Linked DNA regions of Homo sapiens: region 1 is linked to region 2. The links come from fine-mapping of genetic effects on gene expression. A gene starts in region 2. The other region holds a variant in brackets. All regions are shown on one strand. Distances are between the middles of the regions.

Region 1 (4,271 bases), 21 kb after region 2:
ACCTGTTTTATTGAATATTAAAGAGTGAAATAACACTAATGTACATCGCCATGGTTTTAGAAATACCTGCCCTTTAACTCCTTAGAAGGGAAACTGCAAAAGCAATGTACAGAAATAGTGCATTCTAAAGCTAGGAGAAAGCTGGGTTTACACAATTTTAAATTTTGCTTTGCAGACCATCCTCATGTCCCCCAAATTCCACTGTACAGAGGAGATCCTGACCATTGTCTCCCTGCTGTCTGTGGACAGCGTCCTCCACAACCCTCCTTCCCGGCGAGAGGAAGTGCAAGGGGTCCGCAAGAAGTTCATATCCAGCGAGGGGGATCACATGACCCTGCTCAATATCTATCGGACCTTCAAAAACCTAGGCGGAAATAAGGTGAGCCTTGTCTTGCACCTGTTCTCCAGCGATAGCTGCTTGTCTCTGCTATGTGCTTCCCTTTTTCTACTGAAGCCGTGCAAAAAGTACGCTTTCCCTTTTTGGCTAAATTATCTAAAGAATCACAAAAAGAAAGCCAGACAGCATTTCAGAAATGCTTCAGTACCGAAGCAGTGTCATTCTGGTCTCTGTTCCGAATGTGTTTAAGTCAACAAGACTTAAGTGACTCCCAACCCATCAAAACTTAATTGGAACTTGATTAAGTAATATGTCTAATAATGATAGTGCGTACCAATGAATGAGTACTTACTCTGTGCCAAGCCCCATGCTAAGCACTTCTTAATGTAAGATCTCATTTATTCAGTAAAGTAATCCTAAGAAATGAGCACTATAATTATTATTTTTTATATTCATGAAACATGTAGTCATGGAAACGAAGCTTCGTGCAGTTGAAAAACTTGCCCAGGGCCAGGCACAGTGTCTCAAGCTTGTAATCCCAGCACTTTGGGAAGCCAGGGCAGGTGGATCACTTGAGCCCAGGACTTCCAGACCAGCCTGGCCAACATGGCAAAACCCCGTCTCTACTAAAAATACAAGAATTAGCCGGGCGTGGTTGTGCATACCTGTAATCCCAGCTACTCGGGAGGCTGAGGCATGAGAATCATTTGAACCTGGGAGGCAGAGGTTGCAGTGAGCCGAGATCGTGCCACTGCACTCCAGCCTAGGTGACAGAGCGAGACTCTATCTATCTCCAAAAAAAGAAAAAAGAAAGAAGTCTTACATAAATTGACTGGGCATTTCTGTTTTGTTTTCTGTGTCTGTTCATATCCTTTGTCCATTTTTCTACTGGGTCGTTGGTCTTTTTCTTAATGACTTGTAGAACTTTTAAAATCAATTCTAGAGATTCTAATCATTTATTGGGTATGATGAGACAAATATCCCAATCTGGGAAACTTCAAGTTTTTCTTTAGTTTAAATTATTAACACTTTTCTTATAGTTCATGTTTTTTGATATAAAGATATTTTCCTACGTTTCTTTTTGGCACCTGAAGTTTTTTCTCTGAATTCAACTGTGTTCTAAAAATGTTGTTATATTTTCTCTATAGAGATGAGAGGATTGTTAGCTGGGCATGGTGGCATGTGCAGATAGTTCAAGCTATCTGGGAGGCTGAGGTGGGAGGATTGGTTTGCAGTGAGCTATGATTGTATCACTGCACTCCAGCCTAGGGAACAGAGCAAGACCCCGTCTCTGTGAACATATAAATGGTGAATGAGTGGATTGTGATATCACTCTTTCTCCTATTCAGGATTGGTGCAAAGAGAATTTTGTCAACAGCAAGAATATGACGCTGGTAGCAGAAGTCAGAGCACAGCTGAGGGACATCTGCTTAAAGGTATCGTCTGGTCCTAGTGTTCTGTGGGTGACAAAGCTGTCACTTTGTTCAAGGTAGAAATTTTGAAGTTGCTTATTGCTAGTGATTATAAAAGGATTTCTCATTGTAGCAAATTTCACAAATAAGAAAAAAGGAAGTTACCCACAATTCCACAATTCAGTAGTTTAGCCTATTTCCTAATAGCCTAGTTTTTATTGTATTTTTTTACATAGTAAATTATATGTATAATTTATATTTGGTTTTATAATCTTTATAAGCATTTTCCAGTGTTAGAATTCTTCATAAGATTTTTTTTAAGTATGAATATCTGCATTATTTCCTTTTAGATTACCAAAGT[T/C]GTGTATAGTATTTGACACAATGCAGAAAATAGTGATTTATAATGTAGAAAGTTTAAAAGTCTCCCATAATCCTGCCCCTCCAGAGATAACTACTGTTAACAGTTTGGGGTAGCTCCTTCTAGAATTTGTTTCTGTGTATGTATGTTTTTGTGCATGTCTCTGTGCCTGTGTGTGAGCACACACATAACGGATACGTGCATATGAGGTACATGTTCCACAACTTCCTTTCTTCCACATGGCATATTTCTTTCTTTCTTTCTTTCTTGTTTATTATTTGAGACAGAGTCTTGCTCTGTCACCCAGGCTGGAGTGCAGTGGTACCATCTTGGCTCACCACAGCCTCCGCTCACTGCAACCTCTGCCTCCCGAGTTCAGGTGATTCTCCTGCCTCAGCCTCCCGAGTAGCTGGGATTACAGGCGTGCGTCACCACGCCTGGCTAATTTTTGTATTTTTAGTAGAGACGGGGTTTCACCACGTTGGCCAGACTGGTCTCGAACTCCTGACCTCAGGTGATTTGCCCGCCTCGGCCTCCCGAAGTGCTGGGATTCCAGGTGTGAGCCACTGTGCCTGGCCTCACATGCGTATTTCTCAAATCCTTCCTGTGGCTGGGCTTTCAGTGCTGCATGTGTCTAGCTCATTCATTTTAGTGATTTCATAGCATTTCATTGTATTCAGTGCAGTTTATTTAAGCCTCTAATAATGGTCATTTAGATTCTGTTGTAGTGACCATCCTCCGTATGTGCTGTGGTGCACACAGAATGAATTTCTAGATGGGGGAATTTGGATTTTGTTAGATATTGCCAAAGTGTCCACCGCAAAGTGTTTTTTTTCCTTTCTTTTTTTTTGAGACGGAGTTTTGCTCTTGTTGCCCAGGCTGGAGTGCAGTGGCGCGATCTTGGCTCACCACAACCTCTGCCTCCCGTGTTCAAGCAATTCTCCTGCCTCAGCCTCCCGAGTAGCTGGGACTACAGGCATGACCCACCACACCCGGCTAATATTTTGTATTTTTAGTAGAGACGAGGTTTCACCATGTTAGCCAGGATGGTTTTGGCCTCCCAAAGTGCTGGGATTACAGGCGTGAGCCACCACGCCCGGCCTAATTTTTTGTATTTTTAGTAGAGACGGGGTTTCACTATGTTGGCCAGGCTGGTCTCGAACTCCTGACCTCAGGCGATCCACTGGCCTTGGCCTCCCAAAGTGCTGGGGTTCCAGGTGTGAGCCACTGTGCCCGGCCCACAAAGTTTTATATTAGCTTTTTATTCCCTCTTAGAGTACATGGTGTTTTAAAGAGCTGTCATGGTATATTTAATGCTCGCATGACACTCCACATTTTATGTCAGAGATAGAGGGTAGCGGAAGTGTTCTTTTGCTGTTGATCACTGAGACAGTGTCCGTGTGTTTGCTGCTGTCCTGAGTACTCTGTGGTGAATGTCTTGTGCCCCCTCAGTGCGGACGCTGCTGGGAGACAGTCACAGCCTGTACCCAGGCCTGTGTCTGATGCCAACGGCCTACGGTTGGCACTAGAGCTGTTTCTTCTCATAGTAGCCTATTGTATTCTGTCTTTCACACATTTTTTTAAACTGCTTTTGTATTTGAACAGTTTCCTGCCAGTCTGTCTCTTGGCTTCATAAGTTTTCTCAATTTATCATTGACAGTAGAAACGGTGCTTCTCTATTAGTTGTGAATTTAGGACCCTGTAGTGGCCAGGGATACCTCTCATTATATGTCAGGCACTGGTAAGGTCCTGAGACTTTACAGACATGCCTACTCAGTAACTAAGTAATAATCTAGATGGTGACCTGACGTACATACACTCATGCCAGGAGGCCATCAAATTAAAATAATCACTATCATTCATGAAGTGTTTGTTCAGCACTGTTCTGAGTACTTTTTATGTGGCTGCCTTATTTAAACTCCTCATTTCTTTTTTTTTCTTTTTCAACTCAGACCTTAACCCAAAGGATAAAATCCTCATTTCAACCTATAAGATTGATTCTTTTGTTATTCCCATTTTACAAATGATGAAACTAAGCCTAATCAGGTTAAATAATTTGCCCCAAATCACTCAGCCAGTGAGTGGTAAAGCTGATAGTCTGGAAGGAGAGACCACCAGTTAGCCTCTGGGGCTTCTTGGAGGTGGTGACAACTGAGCTAGATCT
Region 2 (4,271 bases):
AAGCTTGTGGTTGTCTCTGAAAGTGGGATAGAGGGAAACTGAACATGATCAAGGGCAGTAATTTGGTGGTCGGAAAAGCAAAGGTGACCACCAGCTGTTATGGTCGTGATCAGACCAGTTAAGTCCACAGACCATCCCAGACAAGTTAAAAATGAAATGTGTCTGACACTTCGTCGTTTGAAGGAAGAACCAGGATATTCTCTGAATAGTTATTAGCTTGTCAGTATCTACATATGAAAGCTGGTGAACCCCAAGAGACTTCTTCAGGAGAAACAGCAGATTTCAGTCTACCAATGGGAGAAATGTGAGCAGCATGGCTTGATGCATATATAGGACTTAATTTTTCCACTCTTTGGTCCTCTTAGCTTTGAGGCTATAGAATAGCTGGATCATTAGGCCAGAGATTATGGATGAGTTACCTACAGATTTGTTACCTACCTATGTGCTTTGTTTTGACAGTACTTTTTTTTTTTTTAAGTTTAAACCTGTATTTAACATTGACAGATAAAAATCTTCACTTTTGGCTTTTCTTGAGAAAATTGGAAGATCTGGCAATAATAGGTCTACATGACAGCCATTGCCTAGAAATGATTAGGGGCTGCATGTAGAGGTGGAATGTGCTCCATCAAGAAATAAGTCCACCCATTTACATTACCTAAATTATTGTAATCATTTGGAACATCGGACTCCTACCTTAAGTTACTCTGGAAAGCACACTGGGAAAAAGGACTGGGATGTCTTTACTCAAAGTCCATAATTTGAGAGTTAACATTTATTATCCCTTGTAGTTTTGGGTTGCCTTTCTAAATATTTCAGGGTAGGAAGTGAAAATTTGTCAGTTTATTCTTAAACACAAATCTGCTGCTGGTTCAACGTGCACATTTTCAGTAATGCCTGGTCACCAAACTGTCAGCAACTAGAGGAAAATTATCTCCGACCTGGAGCAAAGGGGAGGTTTTTTGTTTTTAGACTAGCTCTCTCACGAATCACGGGAAGGGAGATATTTAACAGGGCGAGTTTCATGGAAACGAGCTTCAGAAGATACCCTTCACATGAGCTGAAGCTTACGGTGTATTCTCTGGAAATCACATTTCCTGTAAGAGCAAACAGCTACTTGGCATTCTCCGTGGTAAATTAGCAAATCATCTAAGAACTTTTAGGAGGGTAAGGAAGAACTAGTTATAATCCTACTTTTTTCTGCTGCAGTTCTGAATCTTCACTGAAGTGTCTGTGATGGGGTTGCACAGCCATGTAGAGAACTTGAGAGTCTGGCTGGAATGGTTGGGGGAAAGGAAAGATAAAAGACAATTTTAATTTCATTGAACTCCCTCCTTTCTCTGCTTGTATTACTGGAGGCGACCACATCCGTTGGAGGAGTCATTTTCTGAGTTAAATTCATGTATATCAGAATTGGTTTTCCTTTCTGTAACACAAGATGATCACAAAATTATGATTTGGGGACATCTGAATGACTAAGATGACTCAATTTCTTAATCTGTAAATTAGAGATAATCTAATAACCAGTATATACCACATAACTTATAAGTTGTTTAGAGGATTAGACAATGCACGTTTGCGCTTCTCATTGATTTTACAGAATTAAGTACTTTCCTTGAAGAGTGACTGTTATTTGGACAGAGAAGGGGAAAACGCGGGTTTACTGAAAAGAAGTAATGCTACTAGAACAAAACAATGGGCGGGGCGCGGTGGCTCACGCCTATAATCCCAGCACTTTGGGAGGCCGAGGCAGGCGGATCACCTGAGGTCGGGAGTTCAAGACCAGCCTGACCAACATGGAGAAACCCTGTCTCTACTAAAAATACAAAATTAGACGGGCCCCGGTGGCGCACGCCTGTAACCCCAGCTACTTGGGAGGCTGAGGCAGGAGAATCGCTTGAACCCAGGAGGCGGAGGTTGCAGTGTGAGCCGAGATCGCGCCATTGCACTCCAGCCTGGGCAACAAGAGCGAAACTCCATCTCAAAAAAAAAAAATAAAACAATGAGAAAAACCTCGTTAACCAAGACTACAGTCCCACGGAACCTTACATCCTGTGTTTCCCGGTTGTAGCTCCGGGCCTTTTCCTGGTTGTACCTCAGGCCCTGCTTTTCCCACCCCCAGGAAGTGAAAGCCTTCCCAAGCCCCCAAGGCATGCTGGGAGATGCAGTCCCTTTTTCTAAAGACTGGGGCGGCCGTGAGGTCATCGGTGGTCGCCGGGAGCCGCCAGCACGTGGCGGCGAGGAAGGGGCGGTGTGCTCCTGTTGTCTGCACCTGAGAGGGGGCAGGAGCTCTCGGCGCTTGCGCCTCCCGCCGCGGTGCCCTCCCGACATGCCGGAGGAGGCGGGCTTCCCGCCGGCCAAGAGATTCCGGCCAGGCTCTGGACCTCCGAGCCGCGCTGGGTCCTTCCCTCCCGGGAGGCAAGTGGTGATGCTGCTGACTGCGGGCAGCGGCGGCAGAGGAGGAGGAGGAGGCCGGAGGCAGCAGCCGCCCCTGGCCCAGCCCTCGGCCAGTCCCTACCCTGAAGCTGTGGAGCTGCAGCGCCGGAGTCTGCCCATCTTCCAAGCGCGGGGGCAACTGTTGGCCCAGCTCCGAAACCTGGACAACGCGGTCCTCATCGGTGAGTGGCCGCGCCGGCGGGCTCTTCCTTGCACTTCGTCCGTGGCTTAGCTAGAGCAGTTTTTCTTACATGCCTCTCAATCCCTTTCGTTCGTGGCTTCAACAAACCTGAATACCTTTTCTGGGCCAGACCTGGAGAGGGGCCTCGAAGAAGAGTCCGGCAGCCCTGCCCTGGAGGCGCTGGACAGCCCGGTGAGAGTGACCAACGTGTGTAGGCAAAGACTCACCTTCCGCGTAAAAGGGTAGAGAAACGTACCGGGGGCTTGCGGATCTTAGAAGAGTGGATCTGACCCGGTTTGTGAGGAGGCGGCTGGGGAGGTCGTGTGGGAGGGAGGGCATTCTAGGCAGGGGGGAAAGCCCGTTTGAGAGATGGGAACCTGAACACATTCCGGTCGAAAGGGAAGGTGTAGTTTCTGGTGCATGAAAAGAGGCAGAGTTGTGGGGCAGGGACTGATTTCATGGGGCTTATGATCCCCAACGTGTTAGAGGAGATACTGAAGGACGGAAAGGATGAGCAGCCAAAGAGAGGAAGGAGACCCATGAGTGCTGCTAGTCAAAGGAATAGAGAGTGAGCAGATGCAGCAGTCAAGTCCGGTTATACTGGACTTGGATGTGATGCCCACTGGATTTGGATGTGAGCTATTTGTAAGAGTTAAAGAAAAAGGAAAGAAACACGAAACGCGGCTGGCAGTTAAAGACAGCTTTTCTTTAGTTAAAACCTGAGAGGCGCTCCTGGCCGATTTCGGTCAGGAGCCCTTTCTCTTACAGACTAAGAGTATATATTGGTGTTAGGGTGAGGGGGCTTATCACAAGCTTGGAATGTTTATATGTGTGGAGAAGTTTTTGGCAGGGTTGGACTCTTTGGGAGCAGGGGATGTTATCTTGGGGCAGACATTTTTCCGGCCCGAGGGGGTTTATCTCCCGGCTGGCATATTCCCGGCTGGCATATTCCCGGCCAGAGTGGGGTTATCCCTTAACATGTCTCTGGTCGGGGAGGAGTTTGGAATGTTTCTGGCTGGAGATGTTATTTGTGGTTTATGGTCGTGCTGACCTTAGCCATTAGGCTGATACCTTTTGGATTTAGGCGGTTTTTTATTAAGGTGAACTTTTGAATGAGGGGCTTGTCCAAGATGGTGATGTTCCTGCTTTGTCAATCCAGACCCTATAGTTATAAAAAGGAGGAGGGACGGCATGTTCTTTCTGGCTACTTCCTGCAACGAGGGGATGGAGAGTTTCCTGGTCTCGGGTTGACTAGGAGCAATGCCGTCTGTAGATGTTTTTGGGTAGTTGTTTGTGAAATTGCCATGATCCTGTCAGTTAAAAATCTTTGAAAAAGATTAATTAGGCAGGGTAAGAACATTAGTTCCAGGCATATTATTAGGAGAGGGCCCAGGAATGGGATGACCCATGCTATGATTTTGTTTTCAAACCAAGAGTCCATTTGGTGGTTTTGGTACTCCCTTAGCTTTTTAGCCTTTTCTTTACGTTTTTTAGCAGCGCTTTTTACTAGGCCCGATTGGTTGATATAGAAAGAGGCGTGAGCCACCGCACCTGGCCCCCTCAAAACAATTATTTAACCTTTTAACGTAGGTAAAAATGTGCATTCTTATCCCTCCTGATAATCTTTTTACCGAAAGTGTACTTTACTTTCCTTACA

Alleles and levels. Alleles are on the strand shown, and positions count from the first base shown. SD is a standard deviation of normalised expression in the study named.
As copies of T replace C in region 1, the expression in anterior cingulate cortex of the gene that starts at base 2,204 in region 2 goes up (small effect, 0.39 SD a copy in GTEx).

What was found.
Region 1: its variant is fine-mapped to the expression of DHX33 in anterior cingulate cortex (GTEx, PIP 0.96).

What each region holds. Positions count from the first base shown.
Region 1 is chr17:5,446,311-5,450,581 of GRCh38, reverse strand. It overlaps DHX33 (DEAH-box helicase 33), which reads left to right. Exons shown (of 12, transcript NM_020162.4): 10 at 176-379; 11 at 1,687-1,773. Among named protein-coding and RNA genes, the nearest start is that of C1QBP, 9.3 kb to the right of the region's middle. The variant T/C (reference allele first, on the strand shown) is at 2,111.
Region 2 is chr17:5,466,915-5,471,185 of GRCh38, reverse strand. It overlaps DHX33 (DEAH-box helicase 33), which reads left to right and starts at 2,204. Exons shown (of 12, transcript NM_020162.4): 1 at 2,204-2,615. The coding sequence starts at 2,327. It overlaps DHX33-DT (DHX33 divergent transcript), which reads right to left and starts at 2,094. Exons shown (of 3, transcript NR_135644.1): 1 at 2,047-2,094; 2 at 1,192-1,272; 3 at 826-1,094. RefSeq lists enhancers at 2,111-2,180, 2,561-2,780, 2,570-3,152.